Homo sapiens: one gene and its partner. The protein of the gene in region 2 interacts with the protein of the main gene of each other region in a pairwise test. Each region holds a gene or a part of one and is shown on either strand. Other genes may lie near its edges.

Region 1 (7,197 bases), on a different chromosome or scaffold from region 2:
CCTGCAAACATTCGTCTTCTGCTTGTTTTCTTGAGAAAATCGAAGGAAAGGAATAATGAGTTGGCATTGGCATGAACAGCTTAAGCCTACTGTGTGCTAGTCACTGGTTATGAGAGGAAAATGGTACAATTGTTAGAAATGCAGGTTTCTTAACTCTTAGCTTATTCTAGTGATAAAAATAAATGCTAGGTTTCATTTACCCCAGAATCCTATTTTGATATTTTGCAAATATGAGTTATTTCCATATATTATTTTTCAATGCACGCACCCCCACCCCCATTACGCGCTGAGCCCAGTTACAATGCAATGTCATCAGCCCAAAAGGATGAAGTGCAAGTTATGTTTGTCTACTTGACTGAGAAGTAAATCAGCCTCACATGGAGGCTTCTTTTCCATAAAGTGTGGAACCAAAAAAACTGGCGCCTTTCAGTTGACAAAGGCCAATGACATCAGATTTCCCAGGGCTTCTTCCTTGTCAGGTAAAGTAACAACTACACAGTTTTTCCTCCTCTTTATTTTATTTGAACTGAATACTTGTCAGGTCTGACTAGCGCCTACAATCATAGTTTCTATAACCAAGGCAAGGCAAAATCTTGCAAATCAGTGCAAATCCAGATTTGTTAAACTAATTTCCATTCAGGTCCCTCCCTCCATGCCAAAGGAATATATTAAGCAGTGGAATAGAATCTTATTTCATCTATGCCCCATACCATTGTATGGATGTGAGATTTTATGTTGTGTAGATGTGTGAGAGCAGAAGAAATGCATTAGCAGATATTACACTTACATCTCAAATGGAATTCCATCATTTAAGGGAATAAAATAAAATACCTAATTCAAAATTGGAAATGTCTAACATCATTGCTAACAAAGACAGTTTATTATTCTAAACCAGGATTTTTTTTTTCTGCAAAATTATCTTGGCTTTCTCTTAATACAGCTAAAAGACTAGCATTAAGAATTACTTCATGTACTGCAAAGCCAGCAGAGGGAACACTGCGTACTGATTTAGTAGGGGCCACCAAATATCTGGTATTTGGGGAAAAAAATGTCAGTAATGGAGAACTGATTACAGAGCATATGAAGTTAGGGAATGAGAAGGGAGAAATCTTTTCTCATTATTTGGTATTGAGAGGTCCAACACATTCCAGTGTGCACACACTTAGTTGGTCACAAAGATGACTTTAATAAAAGGGCATTCGTCATATGTTTTCTTACATTCTAAGAGAACTAACCCATTAGAACAGATCTATTTCAGAAGTCTAGGCACTTGTGTAATATATAAATATATATGCAGTAATTATAAAGTCAATGGAAGTTACTGATACCATATTTCATCAAGTCTAAGAGGAAATTTTTCTTTTCATTTCAACTCTTCCTGAAATAAGGAGGCATCCTACATCTAGGGGGATATCACAGTTTCATTGGCAGCTTTCTTCCTTGGTGGAATGTAATATAATGGTGTGTCTTAAAATTTGTTGGATTTGTTGAAATACAGAAAATACATGTAACAAAAGAATGAGGCCAGTGGCTGTGTTTTAGTACACCCTTTAAAAAATCCATGTGTTTTAAGCAGAAACATATATGACTGCTTTAACTTCCACTCTTCCCTATCATATTCGATGATGGAAGCATAAATGACTGAGAAATATAATCAATAATGTTGATACTCAACTTGACTGAATTATCAAACTAGCTACACCCTCAAATCATTAGTTAGTACAAATTCAAAAATAAATATTCTTTTTTATTCTAGTGAAAATATTGATCTTATAGATAATAGCCCTCTTAAAATAATTTTTTTTTGTCAGATTGGTAACATTTAAGGATGTGTTTCTATGCACACCAGAGAAAATGTAGTATATAACACAGCAACACTGTTATGCAAAAAAGGTGCCTGTGTGTTTTTGGTTTGGGTTTTTCTTTTTTTAAGGATTTGTTTCTCCTTTTTTAAAAAAATTATGTAATACAAGTAGCTAATCGTCAAAAATTATTTGCTTTTACCCACAAAAACAGTTTTGCTTGTGGTTGATCCTTACAGATCCAGTCAGATGGCTACATAGGGTGTTCTTTCCAGTAAAATTCTAAGTCTGACAACCTGGGCCTATTGCCAGCCTACATACTTTAAAAGTTTGACAAGATACATAGAAATTTACTACCCAGCACTAGTTTAATCTGAATCAAAAGCCGACTTAATTATTTTGGATTGACTTTACCTAACCACTTATGGTTAGCCTGAAGAATATTAGTTTCCTATTATAGTGTTAAGGAAAGCTGATTTTTACTACAATTCTAATTTTCAGACACTGGAAAACAAGTAATTTCTGTAGCCAACGTTTATTTTGAATACCTTGGCATCCTTTCTTTGCCACATTCTTCTTAGTATTCTTCATGGAGTTCCTTTCTTTTAAAATCAATGGAATGGCAGGGTTGCCACTATTGTCCTTCTATGGTTCACATCAATGATCTGTGATTACTTTTTTTTTTTTTTTGAGATAGTCACACGCTATCACCCACACTGGAGTGCAGTGGCTCAATCTTAGCTCACTGCAACCTCCTGGGTTCAAGCAATTCTCCCGCCTTAGCTTCTCGAGTAGCTGGAATTACAGGCGCATGCATCCCTGCCCAGCTAATTTTTTAATTTTTTAATTTTTAGTAGAGACAGGGTTTCACCATGTTGACCAGGCTGGTCTCGAACTCCTGACCTGAAGTGATCCACCCACCTTAGCCTCCCAAAGTGCTGGGATTACAGGCGTGAGCCACCGCGTCCTGCCTGTTATTACTTTTTTACATAAGTGGCTATTCTGTTTTAGCCTCTTGAACAACATGCAGCTTTTACTAGGAGTGTGTCTGGCATTTGAATTAGAAAGGAAGATATTAGTATTCATTGAGGGCTTACAATACATCAGGTGCTTCATAGTCACAAATTCATTGAACCCTCACAACAACCCTCTATAAAGTAGCTCCTAGTGTTCCCATATAATAGATGAGGAAAACTGAGACTTGGCCACATCCCCATAGTTACAAACCATTAAGAAGGATTAGCAGCCAGGTCTACTATGAATCCGGAGGCCCCATTCTCTTCTGCTACCAGTTATCACCTCCTTCTACAGTTTCTCTTTGCCTTGGTTTTTCAGTTCCCTTCGATTCAAGTAACAAGAGGAAATATATAAGAAGGAAAGGAGGAAGATGGCTTTGGGAGGAGGAGAGGGAAGAGAGTGAAGCAATCTTTAATTTTGAAAACAGGGAAAACAAATATTTAGAAAGTAAAACCGATTTCCATCCTTTACATGCCATTATACATCCTATACAAAACTCTGGAAATCTGCCTATTGAGGTAATTACGGAGCACTACCTAATGTGTTTCAAGGGAAAGCTCCCCTGTTTGGGCTATGCAGGATTTACAGGGAGTTTAAATCATTAAATAACCATAGTTGACCCTTGCTTGGTTAAGAGAGTAAGCAATTATTGCAAAGTCCTCTTCCCTGCCTTCCACAAACAGCACAAAAACGGTTCTGAAGGGATTTACACAATACATCAACATCTGTGCTGTACCTAGAGTTGTTAAAATAATTGTGATGACAGGTGTCTAGGTACCACTTTCTTAATGGTTTTCAATATCCATTGATTTATTGTTTTGTGGCTTTCTCTTCCCCTTTACAGCTTTGGCTTTAAGAAAGAGCTGGGGAACAGATTTTGCACCAGAGGCTGATTCTTTATTCCAATGCTGAAAAGAACTAATAAAAATAATCACTTGGCTTTTAAGCAGAAAGCTTCCATTTACAGTATTTCACCCTTACCCCGCCCCGTTCCAAGCCCCTTGTTATCTAACATAATGGTTAGAATACATTTCCGTCTCTCCCCTTAATAATTTCATGCATTAACATCCTCTTCACACACTATACACACACGCACGCGCGCACACACACGCGCGCGCACACACACAGCAAAAGGAAAAAAGAGGCAGCAGAAATCTCAGCTGTACTTCTAGCCCTTTTAAAAAGTTTGCTCTGTAAATTGGAATGAGGTCAGATTTGGAGCTTCTCATTGCACGCGGAGATTATTATTGCATCGGGTTCCAAGCCAATGGGAAGCCCGGGGGAGGGGTTTGGCATGAGGAAGCGTTGGTTACAGCAGCTGATTGGCTGCAGCCAAGACTGTGAAAGGATAAAGAGGCGCGAGGCGGAATTGGGGTCTGCTCTAAGCTGCAGCAAGAGAAACTGTGTGTGAGGGGAAGAGGCCTGTTTCGCTGTCGGGTCTCTAGTTCTTGCACGCTCTTTAAGAGTCTGCACTGGAGGAACTCCTGCCATTACCAGCTCCCTTCTTGCAGAAGGGAGGGGGAAACATACATTTATTCATGCCAGTCTGTTGCATGCAGGCTTTTTGGCTTCCTACCTTGCAACAAAATAATTGCACCAACTCCTTAGTGCCGATTCCGCCCACAGAGAGTCCTGGAGCCACAGTCTTTTTTGCTTTGCATTGTAGGAGAGGGACTAAGTGCTAGAGACTATGTCGCTTTCCTGAGCTACCGAGAGCGCTCGTGAACTGGAATCAACTGCTTCAGGGAAAAAGAAAAAAAAAAAAAAAAGACTTGCCTGGGAGGCCGCGAGAAACTTGCATTGGAAGCTTCAGCAACCAGCATTCGAGAAACTCCTCTCTACTTTAGCACGGTCTCCAGACTCAGCCGAGAGACAGCAAACTGCAGCGCGGTGAGAGAGCGAGAGAGAGGGAGAGAGAGACTCTCCAGCCTGGGAACTATAACTCCTCTGCGAGAGGCGGAGAACTCCTTCCCCAAATCTTTTGGGGACTTTTCTCTCTTTACCCACCTCCGCCCCTGCGAGGAGTTGAGGGGCCAGTTCGGCCGCCGCGCGCGTCTTCCCGTTCGGCGTGTGCTTGGCCCGGGGAACCGGGAGGGCCCGGCGATCGCGCGGCGGCCGCCGCGAGGGTGTGAGCGCGCGTGGGCGCCCGCCGAGCCGAGGCCATGGTGCAGCAAACCAACAATGCCGAGAACACGGAAGCGCTGCTGGCCGGCGAGAGCTCGGACTCGGGCGCCGGCCTCGAGCTGGGAATCGCCTCCTCCCCCACGCCCGGCTCCACCGCCTCCACGGGCGGCAAGGCCGACGACCCGAGCTGGTGCAAGACCCCGAGTGGGCACATCAAGCGACCCATGAACGCCTTCATGGTGTGGTCGCAGATCGAGCGGCGCAAGATCATGGAGCAGTCGCCCGACATGCACAACGCCGAGATCTCCAAGCGGCTGGGCAAACGCTGGAAGCTGCTCAAAGACAGCGACAAGATCCCTTTCATTCGAGAGGCGGAGCGGCTGCGCCTCAAGCACATGGCTGACTACCCCGACTACAAGTACCGGCCCAGGAAGAAGGTGAAGTCCGGCAACGCCAACTCCAGCTCCTCGGCCGCCGCCTCCTCCAAGCCGGGGGAGAAGGGAGACAAGGTCGGTGGCAGTGGCGGGGGCGGCCATGGGGGCGGCGGCGGCGGCGGGAGCAGCAACGCGGGGGGAGGAGGCGGCGGTGCGAGTGGCGGCGGCGCCAACTCCAAACCGGCGCAGAAAAAGAGCTGCGGCTCCAAAGTGGCGGGCGGCGCGGGCGGTGGGGTTAGCAAACCGCACGCCAAGCTCATCCTGGCAGGCGGCGGCGGCGGCGGGAAAGCAGCGGCTGCCGCCGCCGCCTCCTTCGCCGCCGAACAGGCGGGGGCCGCCGCCCTGCTGCCCCTGGGCGCCGCCGCCGACCACCACTCGCTGTACAAGGCGCGGACTCCCAGCGCCTCGGCCTCCGCCTCCTCGGCAGCCTCGGCCTCCGCAGCGCTCGCGGCCCCGGGCAAGCACCTGGCGGAGAAGAAGGTGAAGCGCGTCTACCTGTTCGGCGGCCTGGGCACGTCGTCGTCGCCCGTGGGCGGCGTGGGCGCGGGAGCCGACCCCAGCGACCCCCTGGGCCTGTACGAGGAGGAGGGCGCGGGCTGCTCGCCCGACGCGCCCAGCCTGAGCGGCCGCAGCAGCGCCGCCTCGTCCCCCGCCGCCGGCCGCTCGCCCGCCGACCACCGCGGCTACGCCAGCCTGCGCGCCGCCTCGCCCGCCCCGTCCAGCGCGCCCTCGCACGCGTCCTCCTCGGCCTCGTCCCACTCCTCCTCTTCCTCCTCCTCGGGCTCCTCGTCCTCCGACGACGAGTTCGAAGACGACCTGCTCGACCTGAACCCCAGCTCAAACTTTGAGAGCATGTCCCTGGGCAGCTTCAGTTCGTCGTCGGCGCTCGACCGGGACCTGGATTTTAACTTCGAGCCCGGCTCCGGCTCGCACTTCGAGTTCCCGGACTACTGCACGCCCGAGGTGAGCGAGATGATCTCGGGAGACTGGCTCGAGTCCAGCATCTCCAACCTGGTTTTCACCTACTGAAGGGCGCGCAGGCAGGGAGAAGGGCCGGGGGGGGTAGGAGAGGAGAAAAAAAAAGTGAAAAAAAGAAACGAAAAGGACAGACGAAGAGTTTAAAGAGAAAAGGGAAAAAAGAAAGAAAAAGTAAGCAGGGCTGGCTTCGCCCGCGTTCTCGTCGTCGGATCAAGGAGCGCGGCGGCGTTTTGGACCCGCGCTCCCATCCCCCACCTTCCCGGGCCGGGGACCCACTCTGCCCAGCCGGAGGGACGCGGAGGAGGAAGAGGGTAGACAGGGGCGACCTGTGATTGTTGTTATTGATGTTGTTGTTGATGGCAAAAAAAAAAAAGCGACTTCGAGTTTGCTCCCCTTTGCTTGAAGAGACCCCCTCCCCCTTCCAACGAGCTTCCGGACTTGTCTGCACCCCCAGCAAGAAGGCGAGTTAGTTTTCTAGAGACTTGAAGGAGTCTCCCCCTTCCTGCATCACCACCTTGGTTTTGTTTTATTTTGCTTCTTGGTCAAGAAAGGAGGGGAGAACCCAGCGCACCCCTCCCCCCCTTTTTTTAAACGCGTGATGAAGACAGAAGGCTCCGGGGTGACGAATTTGGCCGATGGCAGATGTTTTGGGGGAACGCCGGGACTGAGAGACTCCACGCAGGCGAATTCCCGTTTGGGGCTTTTTTTTCCTCCCTCTTTTCCCCTTGCCCCCTCTGCAGCCGGAGGAGGAGATGTTGAGGGGAGGAGGCCAGCCAGTGTGACCGGCGCTAGGAAATGACCCGAGAACCCCGTTGGAAGCGCAGCAGCGGGAGCTAGGGGCG
Region 2 (4,205 bases):
TGTCGTTTAATAAGAGTAACCACATATTTTTAAGAAAAATCTAAGATTTTCCTTTGAAACATATTACCTTTAAGGTGTATATGAATTAAAATAAAATGCATTAACAAATCCATTATTTGAGGAAATTTCTATTCAAAGAAAATTGCTTTAAATTGCCAGGTGACAATAGCAAAGACTTGGAACCAACCCAAATGTCCATCAATGATAGACTGGATTAAGAAAATGTGGCACATATACACCATGGAATACTATGCAGCCATAAAAAACGATGAGTTCATGTCCTTTGTAGGGACATGGATGAAGCTGGAAACCATCATTCTCAGCAAACTATCGCAAGAACAAAAAACCAAACACCGCATGTTTTCACTCATAGGTGGGAACTGAACAATGAGAACACTTGGACACAGGAAGGGGAACATCACACATTGGGGCCTGTCGTGGGGTAGGGGGAGGGAGGAGGAATAGCATTAGGAGATATACCTAATGTAAATGACAAGTTAATGGGTGCAACATACCAACATGGTGCATGTATACATATGTAACAAAACTGCATGTTGTGCACATGTACCCTAGAACTTAAAAGTATAACAAAAATAAAAAATAAAAAAAAATTGCCAGGTGAGTCAAATCTGCTTGAATTTCCAAACTTTTACCATCAATTATTGATTGTATTTTGACATGGGGAAGAGAAAAGTCCTGGTAGTAAAGTCACAAGAATTTTCTTTATTATAGCAAATACTTTCACGGCATTTGACAGAACTCAGAACTATTTACAAAGAAAGAAAGAAAAATCAAACAACCAAAAGATACATTTCATATAATAGGAAAATATAAAAATCGAAGCCAAGTGACAGAATGAAAAAGTTAGCTAAGCAATGGATTTGAAAAACTTCGATTCTAACTATCTGACTTGTTGCTAATTGTCCAAACATATAATAATTTAAGATGGTCTTTTGAGACTTCCTAGAAGTAAAAAGGAATTATTGAAAAAATGTTCAAATATTTCATAAATAAATACCAAAAATATTTATTTTCATTGTACTTTCCGACTTGCTTCAGTGAAGGTGTCCTTTTACAACACTCTGTTTCTTGTTTCAAATTCTCATCTGGAGATGTTACTTTCTTCCAGAGTGATACTCCCAGCTTACCACAATATTCCTGATTAAGAAAATGCTAGAGCTGTCCTACCTGAGGAAAAGAAGAGAGAACTGCAGAACAATCTGTAAAGTTCCTAGACAGTTCAATCAAGTTAAGGATGGTCCAACTGAGATATTTTGTTACTCCAGCACTTTTCAAGTGTTATTATGAAATCACAATTCTATCTCAGTGTGAGATTTCTTATATAAGTAGGAAGAATTTCATTTCTGTAAACATTTGCAGGGCCAGCTGTTTCTCTAAATAGATTTGTTTCTCCTTAAGAGAGCTGCTCCAGTGAAAAATCTTTTCTTACATTTCATGTCCAAACCCAGAGAGAAACCCAATGTTTTTCTGTGAAAAGACAGAAATACTCAAGTAATATAAAAGCTTCCTGTAATCAAGGAATTGCCTACCTATTACAAGCATGTAATCACTCATTGCAGATTCCTAAAGAATTAAAAATGTTCTTCAGTTACTCATAGTTCATCAGATGTACTGTTAGCCCTTGCTAATTCACATTCTTCACTGGTTTGACAACTCTGAAGGATGTCCTTGTAGTGGTTCTTCAGATCTTCATAAAATGAAACAGTTTCTTGTGAGTAAGCCAAAGGTAACACCTTTTCATTTAATAACATCTGCACTCGGAATTGTTCTTTAGGAGTCTTAGCATTTTCACAGTGGTAAAGCACAAATATCAGGTTCGAGGCATAAGGTACAATGAGACCACTTCGGAACTTCCGATGCATTTGTTTTTTGTAATTGTACGCTGTTAGGGGTTCCTTGTCTTTGAAGTAGCCCATGAGAGAAAGCAGTGGAAGAAGAGTCTCTGCATGACCAAACTGGAGGATGACTGGAGAAGAAATTGGCTGAGACCTTCAAATAGAAATTAAGAGAAAATAAGGTATATATATTAATGTCATAGAACATAGTATTTACACTTAGGAGTAACTTCCACATCTTTTTTTAGTTTAAATAATCCCATCTATTTTTTTAAATCTTTATATACATTACACAAGCATACGGCTGAAATTCCGTGTGGCAGAGAACTAAACTTTTTATACTGAAAGTTAAGTTCCGAAATTCAGATCACTGTACTGTTGTAAATCCATATAAGTGTGCATACATATTTTCCTTTAAGTTTAAAGAGAGAGAAGTGTCTTATAGATATGGGAACTTGAAACAGATGTGTATTTCAACACTGTATTGCCTTTCTGTGCATAAAACTGAGCAACCTGGCCCTTAGTAAATATTACTCCATGGAGCTCTTTTGAATAAAGTGTTATTATTTTATTTATATCTAGGGAATAAGAACAAGCAATATTCAGTAAATGTCTTACCAAGTCTGAACAGGATTACATGGTAATTCATGTAATCCTTAATGGTTTACAAAACCCAAAAAAGGTTAGTGATGTAACCTATTGTGGCTGAAACAATGTGTCTCTGGTTGGGAGTGGGAGTATAAAGTGCCAGGAATACAAACCACTTTCAACACTGAGCTGAATCAATTCTTTTTCTTGAAGTTTTCTATGATTTTTTTTTTCTGGTAAAGAATTTTTATTAAGAAGCAGTGAATGACTGCTTAGCCTTTTCCCTACCTTTATAGAAAAAATAATATTTTTCTTAAATATAATTTGTAAACCTATTCAAACATGACTGTCTGACTTTTTGCCACCACTCATCAGGTTATCAATTTAGTGCATCTGGATTTTCTGGGAGGATAGAAGCAGCAGTTCTAGACCTTCCTGATTCCCTCTGCCCCCAACACACACAAACACAGCAAGCAGATAGCAAATCCAAAAACCCATGGGAAACATTTACAACATAACTAGGTGGAAAAGTATTCTCTATGAACCACTCCAAGTAGCATCCAACCTCAAGCACTAGATATTATCAGTATCTGTTGAAGAAAGCAGAGAGAAGCCACAGAGCATCTGAGCAATCTGAGAACAAGAGAATCCCAAACAGCCCACAGGTATTCACTGGAAGCGCTGTGTGTGAACTGGATATAGCAGCTGAAATTGGGAAGTATTTAGTCCTCTCCAGGACTTGGTGAGTGCAAGGCAGGCCTACAGTGAGGCCCGGGGCTAGAGAATCCTGGAGCTCCTGTGAACTCTCCAAACACAGGGCTCACACTAGAGAAACTGCTGGGAGTGGAATTTCAGCCAAGCAGGAGAGGGACAGAAGAGATAAAGGAAAAAGTAAGTCTAGATGAAAGTGGGGGGAGGGGAACAGAGCCAGGAAATCTCAGAAAACAACCCATCATACTTCTGAACAGTACACACACCAGAACGGGGGGGCTCTGTGAGATGAGACAAGCAATCTGACACAAACCTTTTTCTAAATGTTCAGGAAAACAATTCATATCAAAATAACTACAGAAAAGCATGTAAGAAAAAATAAGGAGCAGAATAACTTCCATATATAAGAGTACGCTAGAAATATATACTCAAAAAGTACACTGAAACTGTTAACAGTATTTCAAAACAAACTAAAAGACAATTATTCACTACTTTCAGATTAATATTCTCTAAAAGGTGTAAAACTTAAAAGCCATTCATCAACAGGCGCTTACCAAGCCTCTCTTCATAACTGGTATACTTTAATTAGGTCATCTAAAATACCTAAAACCTGTATTTATTTCCAAGAAGCAATCTCTTAGGTCTGAAGTTACCAAGCGGTAGCATTCAGAACACAGCCATATTTAGTTTGACCAGCATAAGTATTTTTAAATTTTACATTACTTATCAGTATTTAAAAATTGAGAGGTTTAAGATTCTTAAAAATCCAGATTTTTGCTCTTCTTAGAAATCTGAAAGATCTGGCAACACAAGTCCATATATACCCGTAAGACCATAATCAGCTAAACAGGAATAAGGTTACCCACCCTGTAGAGAGGGCATATACTTGTTACACAGCACATGTATCATTCCACATTGTCTAACATAGGATGAATTCATTCCTTTGTTACTTGCCTGGCCCCTTTATACATCTGAGTATATTCAAGTCTAAACTAACACTACTGTCACCATCTAAATAATGAAATTTAATAAGGATACAAGTTAAAAGAA

Evidence for each region. The genes of interacting proteins can lie anywhere in the genome.
Region 1: the proteins of MINPP1 (region 2) and SOX4 interact in a two-hybrid assay, tested with the Homo sapiens proteins (one study listed by BioGRID).

The regions. Positions count from the first base shown.
Region 1 is NC_000006.12:21,589,554-21,596,750, forward strand, and holds the start of SOX4 (transcription factor SOX-4), read left to right. Parts: upstream 1-4,197; 5' UTR 4,198-4,981; coding exon 4,982-6,406; 3' UTR 6,407-7,197. UniProt on the Homo sapiens protein: Transcriptional activator that binds with high affinity to the T-cell enhancer motif 5'-AACAAAG-3' motif. Required for IL17A-producing Vgamma2-positive gamma-delta T-cell maturation and development, via binding to regulator loci of RORC to modulate expression.
Region 2 is NC_000010.11:87,549,887-87,554,091, reverse strand, and holds the end of MINPP1 (multiple inositol polyphosphate phosphatase 1 isoform 1 precursor), read right to left. Parts: intron 2,011-4,205; coding exon 1,614-2,010; 3' UTR 631-1,613; downstream 1-630. UniProt on the Homo sapiens protein: Multiple inositol polyphosphate phosphatase that hydrolyzes 1D-myo-inositol 1,3,4,5,6-pentakisphosphate (InsP5[2OH]) and 1D-myo-inositol hexakisphosphate (InsP6) to a range of less phosphorylated inositol phosphates.